2 separate regions of the Homo sapiens genome follow, and region 2 is linked to region 1. The links come from fine-mapping of genetic effects on gene expression. A gene starts in region 1. The other region holds a variant in brackets. All regions are shown on one strand. Distances are between the middles of the regions.

The links. PIP is the estimated chance that this variant, and not a neighbour inherited with it, causes the effect. A credible set is the group of variants that fine-mapping cannot tell apart.
Region 2: its variant is the best candidate, but not a certain one, in a credible set for the expression of HDGFL2 in skeletal muscle (GTEx, PIP 0.84).

Annotation. Positions count from the first base shown.
Region 1 is chr19:4,468,889-4,474,251 of GRCh38, reverse strand. HDGFL2 (HDGF like 2) reads right to left here and starts at 1,955. Exons shown (of 16, transcript NM_001001520.3): 1 at 1,830-1,955. The coding sequence starts at 1,901. RefSeq lists enhancers at 1-40, 2,530-2,879, 3,140-3,309 and silencers at 1,760-1,819, 1,850-2,029.
Region 2 is chr19:4,499,841-4,505,203 of GRCh38, reverse strand. HDGFL2 (HDGF like 2) reads right to left here. Exons shown (of 16, transcript NM_001001520.3): 15 at 3,887-4,013; 16 at 2,997-3,293. The coding sequence ends at 3,194. PLIN4 (perilipin 4) reads left to right here. Exons shown (of 8, transcript NM_001367868.2): 7 at 257-343; 8 at 419-3,012. The coding sequence ends at 745. Among named protein-coding and RNA genes, the nearest start is that of PLIN4, 16 kb to the left of the region's middle. The variant A/G (reference allele first, on the strand shown) is at 3,015.

The DNA of each region.
Region 1 (5,363 bases):
TGGTCCAGAGCACCGTTTGGTGTCCCCCTCCACAGCCCCTCCCTGCTGCCCCAGCCTTCCACCCCCAGTGCCAAATTCCTCAGTCCTGCCCGGCAAATTCCACCAACCTCAGCCCTGGGAGACTCAGCCCTAAGACCTGGGGATGACAATAGCCTGGGGTCCCTGCTTCCCGCTGGCCTGTACCTCTCAGGGCCTGGAACTCACCCCCTCCACACCTGGGACTCCAAGGTGCGGAATATCCTTCAGGCCAGGACACCTGGGACTATCCAGGTCGTCGGGACCCCAGCTTCCACCAAAGGGGCATCCAAGGTCCCCTCGGCCAGCCCCCTTCCCTCAGAAGCGCTCCCACTCCCTGGGCCCGGGCCTGTCTCCATTTCAAGCATTGGGGTTGGACCACCCCACCCTCAAGTCCCTCCAAAACCAGCTTCTACATCCTCCTCCCCACAGGGGACCAATCCCCAGGGTCCCCCAACAGTCCCGATGCCAACTTCATTCTAAGGTCCAGTTCCCCGAGTCCCAGTGACCCCGTGAACAGAGCCCCGAGCCCCATTCCCCCACCCCCAGCCCCTCACTCAGAGGTCCCAGCTTCCCTTAGCCTTGACCCTCAACCTTCCCCCCTGACTGCCTCCTCCAACCCTGGACCCCTAGCACATGGCCCTCGGCCCCCCAGCCCCTCAAAACTGGGCTTCTCCAGGACCCACAAGGGAGTGCTTCAGCCCCCATATCTGACCCCAAATCTCAAGTTCCGCAGTTCTGCTCAAACTTGAACCTTGAGCCCTCAGGCCTGGGATCCCCAGGCCCTCAGGTGAGGGTCCCTCAGGTCCCAGACCCTCCCAGACACCCTGCGCACGGCTCCCTGAGGCACCCTGGACACCCCCAGACACACGAGGCGTGGCTCCCTCTGGGCCAGGGCAACCCCAGATCCCCATGGTGCAGCTCCCTCAGGCACAGAAGCCCCAGACCCCCAGAGCGCAGCTTCCTCAGGCCCAGGACCCCCAGACCATTGGCGCCGCAGCTCCTTCAGGCCCTGGACACCCCCCAGATCCCCACGGCGCAGCTCCCTCAGGTCCAGGACCGCCATTCCCCCAGAGTGAGAATTTATCAGGCCCCAGACCCCCAGGGCACCGCTTCCTCGGGCCCGGGACCCCCAGACCGTCGGCGCGCGGCTCTTTCAGGCCCCAAACACCCCCAAACCCCCAAGGTGCGACTCCCTCGGGCCCAGGATACCCCCAGACTCCCAGGGAGCGACTCTCTGAGCCCCAAAACCCTCATACACCAAGGGCGAGAGTCTCTCAGGCCGCAGACACCCTCAGAACCCCTAGGCGCGGCCCCCTGAGGCCCAGGGCCCCCAGACCCCGGGGCGCGGCTCCTGCAGGGCTTGGACACCCCCAGAACCCCAGGACGCAGCTCCCTGAGGCCGAGGACCCCCAGACCCCGGGAGGGGCTCCTGCAGGCCCAGACGGCGGGTCCTGCAGGATCCGAACACCACCAGACCACAAGAACGCGGCTCCCTGCAGCCCAGGACCCCCAGGCCCCGAGGGCGGGGCTCCCTGAGGCCCAGGATCCCTAGACCCCGGGGCGCGGCTCCGGCAGGCCCCGGACAACCCCAGACCCCTAGGGCGCAGCTCCCTGCGGCCCAGGACCCCCAGACCCCCAGGGCGGGGCCGCTGCGGGTCTCGGACACCCCCAGACCCCATGAACCCCAGACCCCCGGGGCGCAGCTCCTTCAGGCCCAGGACAACCCCGGCCCTCCAGTGCCCGCCTCCGGCCCGGGGCCCCCGCTGCCCCCCCCCCCCCCCCCACCGGCCCCATCTCCCGCGCGGCCTCACCCTGGCAGGCCAGTGAGGGTAGCCCTTCATCTTAGCGAACACCAAGTCCCCGGGCTTGAAGGCGTGTGGCATGCTGACGGCGAGAGGCCCAGGCCGCGGAAAGCGGCTGCAGCGGCGGTAGCGGCTGCGGCGGCGGCGGCGGCGGCAGCGGGAGGCGAAGCCGGGGGCGGGAGCGGGACGCCGAGGGGGCGGGGGAGGCTGTCTGGGCAGCCTGCCGACGCGCGCTTATTGGGCGTTGCGCCAACGGAAGTTCAGCCCTCCGGCCGTCACGGGCCGGCAAAGCCGTCGATCAGGACCACGTGCAGGGGACAGAGAAGGGAGGCGACCAATAAGAACAGAGGTTGGAGCACAGCAGTTAACGGGATTGGATAACGGACAGACCCAAGGGGCGTAACCCAGAGACTCTAATGGGAGGTTATGGGAGGTGAAAGGGAAAGGTGGGAGGAGACGAACAGACGCTCTAAGGGAGTGAAGGGGTGGAGCTTAAGGGAAAGAGGCAGGACATAGACCTCCACAAGAGAAGGGGATATAAGGAGGGCAGAACATTGGATACCGCAGAAAAGAAGGCCAATCACTTAACGCAATGGGCGGGTCATTGACAGCCTCTCCCGCTCAGGAGGAGAGGCTTAAAGTAGATATGCAAGCCATTGGATACCACAAGAGAAGCGCCTCAAGGTAGGGAGCAGGCATTGGCCATCACAAGAGGCGGGGCTTCAGCGGGAACGTCGGCCATTGGCTATCGAAAGAAGAGCGATACAACATAAAACAGGGACGGGCGATTGCCAGCTCGAGGAGGCGGGACTTAGAGGAAGGGGCAGGCTCCGGGGGAGCTCTTAGTATAAACAGCCACAAAATGCACAAAATAGTTATTTCTTCACTTAGTTAAAAACTTAACTGAGTACCTACTATATGCCAGGGCCCCAAAACGCCACACAGACCTATTCATTCATTCAAGAAAAATGTACTGAATACCGTGGGGCCGAGTCACTTGATTGTCCTGGGCTTCGCTCTCTGCACTTGGAAGATGGGGCCCATAATGATTGTGAGGACCCTGCTCTAGACTGAGCCCGGCAACAGGAAATACAGGAAGTATTAGAAGCTATAACTCGGCCGGACGCGATGGCTCACGGCTGTAACCCCGGCACTTTGAGAGGACGAAGCGGGCGGATCACGAGGTCAGGAGTTTGAGACCAAGCCTGGCCAACATGGTGAAACCCCGTCTCTACTAAAAATACAAAAATTAGCTGGGCGTGGTGGCACGCACCTATACCAGCTACTCAGGAAGCTGAGGCAGGAGAATCACTCGAACCCAGGAGCGGGGGGTTGCAGTAAGCCGAGATCGCGCCACTGCACTCCAGACTGGGTGACAGAGCAGAAAAAAAAAAGCTATAACTCTACCTTCCGGCAGGGCGTGGTGGCTCACGCCTGTAATCCCAGCACTTTGGGAGGCCGAGGTGGGTGGATCACGAGGTCAGGAGATCGAGACCATCCTGGCTAACATAGTGAAACCCCGTCTCGACTAAAAATACAAAAAAAATAGCTAGGCGTGGTGGCAGGCGCCTGTAGTCCCAGCTACTAGGGAGGCTGAGGCAGGAGAATGGCCTGACCCCGGGAGGCGGAGCTTGCAGTGAGCCGAGATCGTGCCACTGCACTCCAGCCTGGGCGACAGCGCGAGACTCTGTCTCAAAAAAAAAACAAAAACAAAAAACAAAACTCTACCTTCCAGGAATCAAGTATAACAGGGCCAAGAAATGTTAAGTTTTAAAATTTGTTGATGTTGCTGTGTTTTGTTTTGTTTTTTGTAATTAGGATCCATGGTAAGAACTAAAATGAACCAGGGTGCTTGAGGAAAAAAAGCTGAATAATGGAGACGACTTCTTCTCTCCTGGGGGATCACAGAGGGTTACTGGATGAAGTGAGTTTAACCAGACACTGGGAGAATGAATAGAAGTTGGACATGATAGTGAGGCGAGCCCTGGGAGGGCATGAGGAGCAGAGGGAAGAGCAAAAACAAGCGTCTGATCCTCACTTAAGGTCAGGAGTACGAGACCAGCCTGGCCAACATGGTGAAATCCCATCTCTAGAAAAAATACAAAAATTAGCCGGGCGTGGTGGTGGGCGCCTATACTCCTAGCTACTTGGGAGGCTGAGGCAGGATAATCACTTGAACCTGGGAGGCGGAGGGTGCAGTGAGCCGAGATCACGCCGTTACACTACAACCTGGGTGACAGAGCGAGACTCCGTTGCAAAAAACAAACGAGACCGGGCGCGGTGGCTCACGCCTGTAATCCCAACACTTTGAGAGGCCGAGGCGGGTAGATCACTTGAAGTCAGGAGTTTGAGACCACCCTGGCCAACATGGTGAAACCGCATCTCTACTAAAAATACAAAAAATTAGCCAGGCGTGGTGGCAGGCGCCTGTAATTCCAGCTACTCGGGAGGCTGAGGCACGAGAATCACTTGAACCCGGGAAGCGGAGGTTGCAGTGAGCCAAGATCATGCCACTGCACTCCAGCCTGGGTGACAGAGCGAGACTTTGATTCAAAAAAAAAAAGAAAAGAAAAGAAAAAGCAAACAAGCAAAAACAAGAACAACAACAGCAACAACAAAAAACCCATCTGATCCTAGGATGACTGTGTGTGAGTAGGGGAAACAGATAAAGCTGGAGGGCTGGAGGGGTCCGTAGAGGACCTATCACAATACATTACAAACATAAATGAGAAGTTTGGGTTTTATTTTAACTTCTTGGGAAACTATTGGGGGGATCTGATCAGAGGATACAAAGAGAGTATTTTATTCTCAAAAAACATCCCTATGCATGTGAAATATGGATCAACAAAGACCATTTCTTTAAAACTGAAACGTAAGGCCTGGCATGGCATCTCACACCAGTAATCCCAGCACGACTGAGGTGGAAAATTCGCTTGAGCCCAGGAGTTCGAGACCAGCCTGAGCAACATGGTTAAACCCCATCTCTACAAAAAATATAAAAATCAGTTGGGCATGATCCGCACACTTCTACTCTGAGCTACTCAGGAGGCTGAGGAATGAGGATCGAGCCCAGGGAGGCAATGGTTGCAGTGAGCTGAGATTGCACCACTGCACTCCATCCTGGGCAACAGAGCTAGACCCTGTTTCAAAAAAATACAATAGGCCGGGCGCGGTGGCTCACGCCTGTAATCCCAGCACTTTGGGAGGCTGAGGTGGGCAGATCACGAAGTCAGGAGTTTGAGACCAGGGCAGCCAACATAGTGAAACCCCATGTCTACTGAAAAACAAAAATTAGCTGGGCATGATGGTGTGTGCCTGTAGTCCCAGCTACTCAGGAGACTGAGGCAGGGAGAATCGCTTGAACCCGGAGGGGGCGGTTGCAGTGAGCCGAGATTGCGCCACTGCACTGCAGCTTGGGCAACAGAGTTAGACTTCGTCTCAAAAAAATAAATAAATAAAATAAAAATTAAACATAGGCCAGGTGCCGCGGCTTATGCGTGTAATCCCAGCACTTTGGGAGGCCGAGGCAGGTGGATCACGATG
Region 2 (5,363 bases), 31 kb before region 1:
ACAGGTTTAGGGGTGAGGAGTGACACGACCCCACAGACACTGTGTTACGTGCACTCCCTGATGACCTCATGGGGAAGTTTGAACTATTGCCTCTTTCTGCAAGACAACACGCCCACTGTGGTACAACTGACTTGGAACTCGTGGCCTTTCTCCCAGGACTGTGAATGTGCCCAGGTCCCTGGGGGAGGGGGAGGTGGGGGTTGTGAAAGGTCATTTGCCAAGAAGCCATCATTTCCCCACTGTACTCTCTCTCCAGATTGAAAAGGCCCAGCAGGCTCCAGAAGGGCAGCCACGTCTGGACCAGGGCTCAGGTGCCAGTGCGGAGGACGCTGCTGTCCAGGAGGTGGGTCTGGCACAGGGCTAGGGTCCCCCCACCCCGCCCATGGGTCTCCACTCACCTTGCGCCTTCCTCCCACAGGAGCGGGATGCCGGGGTTCTGTCCAGGGTCTGCGGCCTTCTCCGGCAGCTGCACACGGCCTACAGTGGCCTGGTCTCCAGCCTCCAGGGCCTGCCCGCCGAGCTCCAGCAGCCAGTGGGGCGGGCGCGGCACAGCCTCTGTGAGCTCTATGGCATCGTGGCCTCAGCTGGCTCTGTAGAGGAGCTGCCCGCAGAGCGGCTGGTGCAGAGCCGCGAGGGTGTGCACCAGGCTTGGCAGGGGTTAGAGCAGCTGCTGGAGGGCCTACAGCACAATCCCCCGCTCAGCTGGCTGGTAGGGCCCTTCGCCTTGCCCGCTGGCGGGCAGTAGCTGTAGGAGCCTGCAGGCCCGGCGCGGGGTCGCCCTGCTCTGTCCAGGGAGGAGCTGCCTCAGAACTTTCTCCCCGCCCCCAAACCTGGATCGGTTCCCTAAAGCCCTAGACCTTTGGGGCTGCAGCTGGCTGAGCGCCGAGGGGCTGCGGAGGCAGTGACCTTCTTAACTGAGCCACCCCACGCCCTGCTCCGGGCCTGCCTGCATCTCCCACCTCCTCCCCAGCGCTGCCTGCCCCTCTCGGAGCCTGGGGTCACTCAGACCACCAGCCAAGAGCCTTCCCTTGAAGTCCCCAAGCAAGCACTGCAATTAGGAAAGAGAAAAAGCAGCGTGCCCAGCCTGGAAGGGCATCTGTTTGCCCCGCTAGCAACCCTTTTATATCTAGCAGGGCTCTTCCAGTCCTGCAGCACGGGCCCCCAGCTATCAGCGGTGCAGGCAGTGCTGTGGCATCCCAGGCTCCGGGCAGCTCCGTTCTCATGCTGAAAGTGGGTCTCCGGCCTTAGCACACACACCTTGAGGGTCTTAAGAACCACATTCCCTCATAGTAGAAAGTACTAGAAAAAGCGACACTGCCATCATCATCCCAAGGCAGGCTGCTACTGCCTTTGCTGACCCCCGGGGTGGCCTCACGGTGGGGACAAAGCTGCCAGGAGCCACAGCAGCCACAGCTGGGGCTTTGCACCAGCCTGGCTTGAGACTGAGCAGTTTGCAGGGGGTGGGGGGTGCAAAAAACAAGCAAACAGGCTGCTGCTGCCTCCAGCTGCCCACCACAGGCCTGCCCCAGGCACCTGGGGCTCTGAGGCCCCTGGGGAGGCTGGGCCCAGCAGCTGCCCCTGGAGAACACAGACAAAGGACTTCCCCGCAGGGAACTGTGCCCTATGGAGGGATCAGACAGGGCTGGGAACAGCCACAGAGGCTGCGTGCCTATGGCACAGCCCTTCCTCCGCCGCACACTCCCCCTGGGTCCTCAGGCCCACCCAAGCGCCGGGCTGCAGAGGAAGCGGGGCTGGGGAGGCTGCAGGCATCAGAGACACTGGTGGTGGCGGACCCGGCCGCCGGGCCCCGTGCTCTCAGGCTAGCCCAGGTCGTGGAGGCTGGCAGGCTCAGGTCGGGTGTGAGACGTGCCGTGGCTGCGCTCAGTCCAGCGGGGAGGAGCCGTTCAGCCCGGCCTCCCCAGGAAGCCATATCCCCACTCACCCGGTAAGAGAACCTTGTCGTCCCCTTTCCATGCTCTCCTAGGACACGAGCCCAGGAACCCCAGACCCAGGGGGAGGAAGGGTGGAGGGGCCCCAGGGGTCACCGTGTGCACCAGGGGCCGTGAGGGGCCGGGGCATTCAGCTCAGCTCTGAACCGGGGAAGCTGGCACGGCAAGGACTGCCTCAGGTGACGGGCCGTGAGAGGGGACGGGTCAGGAGCCTTCCCAAGCCTTCTCCTCAGCCCGACACCCATGGCCATCGGAGGCTAGGATGCCAGACACAGCCATTTGCAGAAATCAGGCACAGTGACTGCAGCTCACGTCCAGCCAACCAAGCATGGGGCCGCAGCTCAGGAAGTCCCTTCCCGCCACACCACAGCCTAATTCTTACTGGGACGGAGGCAACTCGGCTACGCTGGGCAGGACGACAAACACGAGACGCCACTGTGGAATGAGCAACTTCGGAGCACGGGGTGACTTGCTTGGGACCGTGCCCACGTGACAGCCCCTTATGCAGAGGAGGAAAGAGAAGCCCCGAGTGGGAGGGGAACCTGTCCAAAGTCACACGGTGTGTGGGTGACACAGCTGGGGTGAGTCGAGGCTGGCCCCTGAGGCCCATGCTCCCTGAACGCTGGAGACCACTGTCGGCTAGCAGCGGCTCTCAGGGAAGGCCTGGTCTCCACCCTCCCAGCCTAGCCTCGCGGACCCTCGTCCTCCCCACATCGGACCTGCTCACCTGCCTGGACCCTGGGCTGCCAGATGCAGGAAGCATCAAACCCCCCAGCCTCGTGGGTGCGGGGCAGGGCGCAGGCAGCACAGCTTAGATGCCCTGGTTTGTCCCTCTTGTCTCCTGGGAAGAGCTTGCTCCCGCCCAGCTCTCCTGCCACTGGCCTTTCAGGGTTGGGCTGGGCCCAGAGTGCCTTTTAGTCGCTTCTCACGGTGGCCTGATGGCTCAACCCAGTCCCAAACGGGCCCAGTGACACTGCCGCCTGCGCCCCAGCTCAGGCCCCCACTGCACCAGCAATGCTAGAAAACCAAGCCAATAAAAGTGATTTCTTTTTTCATTAAAAAACC[A/G]TTTATAGTCATTTCATGTTGGTTGGAAATCACAGAAATTAGGCAGGAAAAAAAAACCCAAGGGAACAAATACAAACAGCACAGCGTTCCCCACAGTTCTCTGCTCTGCTCTCCTGCGAGCCGGGGAAGGAGAGGGGCAGCCTGAGCTCGGGCGGGGGCTGGGCCTGGCTGCCCGCGGCTCAGCTCTCCTCGTCCAGGGCCTCCGAGTCCCCCCGTGCCCTCTCGCGCTCCTGCCGGTCGCTCCCAGGCCTGTCCAGGTCGGGACCCTCCCGTACGCTGCTGGTGGGAACAGCAAAGGCGGTGTGAGGATGCCCTCCCGCCCCTGCCCTGCCTGTAGGGCGGTTGGGTGGGATGGGCACCGAGGAGTGTACCCCCGTTGTGGCACCTGAGGCTCGAGTGCCGCCCTCCTATCTGCCTGTCTTCTGCCACTAGAGACCACAACCATCTCCAGGGTCCCCACGCTGGCGCCAGCCAGGCATAGCACAAGGCAGCTGCTGGGTAAGTGAGTGACTCCACTGAGCCTTGTACCAGACAGCAGCCCACAGTGATGGGCACAGGCACCGTCAGATAGCCGGGTGCCCGTGCTCGGGGCCTACCTACCTGGGCCACCCTGGAGGCTCGGCAAGAAGCCACCTTCCCAGGAGGCCAGGGGCAGGCAGCTCAAAGCCCTGGAGCTGCCTCTCTGTAGGGGCCGCCGGAAGTGCCAGCCAGCGGGGCCCTGGGGTCAGCTGTGAAGGTGGGAGGCCCGAGTAAGGACGACATCCCTGGGACCCATCCCAGAGGGACTGGCACAGGAGGAGCGGCTCGGACCCAGGGTGCGCGTCACACCGCTGCCGCTCAGGAGTCCAAACCCCACGGCCCGGGACACTCACTCGTGCAGGTCTTCAGAGGAGCCACACCTTGGCCCCTCCTCCGAGTCCCGACCCTCCTCGTGCTCCTTGTCCTCTGCGCTCTCCCCCTTCTGTGATGTGGCCTCGCCATTCACTGGGGCTGAGAGATCTGGGTGGGACAGAGGGGTCACAGGACACTGCTGGGCTCCAGCTGGGCACCCCAGAACCCTTGCCTGTCAAGGACTGGACCAGGGGCCAAGCTGAGCGCCGTGGGTGACACATGCCCATCCACCTGGACCCCAGCACCTGCTGTCCAGTCTGCAAGCTCCTGACATGGGATGCTGCAGCCAGCCCCAGCCCGAGCCACACTGGCCTGCAGAACTGGGGGCCCAAGAAATGAGGGAACGTGGGCAGCCCTGAGAAAAGCCCACAGCAGCCTGGGAAAGACAAAGGAAGACAAGGTCGGGCACGGGGGCTCACAATCCCAGCACGTGGGAGGCCGAGACGTGAGGCTCACTTGAGCCCAGGAGTTCAAGACCAGCCTGAGTAACATGCCAGCAACCCTGTCTCTACAAAAAATACAAAAATTAGCACGTCCTGGCAGGGCGCAGTGGCTCACGCCTGTAATCCCAGCACTTTGGGAGGCCGAGGAGGGCGGATCATGAGGTCCAGAGATTGACACCATCCTGGATAACACGGTGAAACCCCATCTCTACTAAAAAATACAAAATATTAGCCTGGTGTGGTGTTGGGTGCCTGTAGTCCCAGCTCCTCGGGAGGCTGAGGCAGGAGAATGGCGTGAACCCAGGAGGCGGAGCTTGCAGTGAGCCAAGATCACGCTACTGCACTCCAGCCTGGGGGACAGAGCAAGACTCCGTCTCAAAAAAAAAAAAAAAAAAAAAAAAAATTAGCAGGGCATAGTGGTGTAGGCCTACAATCCCAGCTCCTCAGGAGGCTGAGGTGGAGGATGGCTTGCGCCCAGGAAGTCAAGGTTGCAGTGAGCTGTGATTGTACCACTGCACTCCAGCCTGGGGGACAGAGCGAGACCCCATCTCAGAAAAAAAAGAAAAAAGAAAAAAAAGACACTAGCCTTCGGCTGCCCCCTGGGCCGCAAAGCCCCATCCCAAGCTCGCCCATCCCATCTCCAAAGGGCTGCTCTGAGCACCTGTAATGGGGCCATGTCAGCCCAGTAGCCCCACAGCCAGCAGCCCCGAGGGTCACACCTCATCTCCTGTCGGCCCACCAGGCAAGCAAGGGCACCTGAGGCCTCCGCCCCCGAGCCTCCACCGACTGCCTCTCTGAACAATGCCCCCACTCTTTGCCCCCGCTGCACAGAGCCACCCCCCTCTCTGGGCGTCCCAGGGTGGGAGACGGTGGAGGCGTGTGCTGTCATGCACTGTCCCCGTCACCCCTCTGGCGTGAGCCCCAAGTTACCTGCATGCTGGCTGCCTGGCACACGGTAGGACCTGAATGCCCCTCACTGGCTGCCCCAGGGATTAAAGCCGGGTCTGCACGGAGA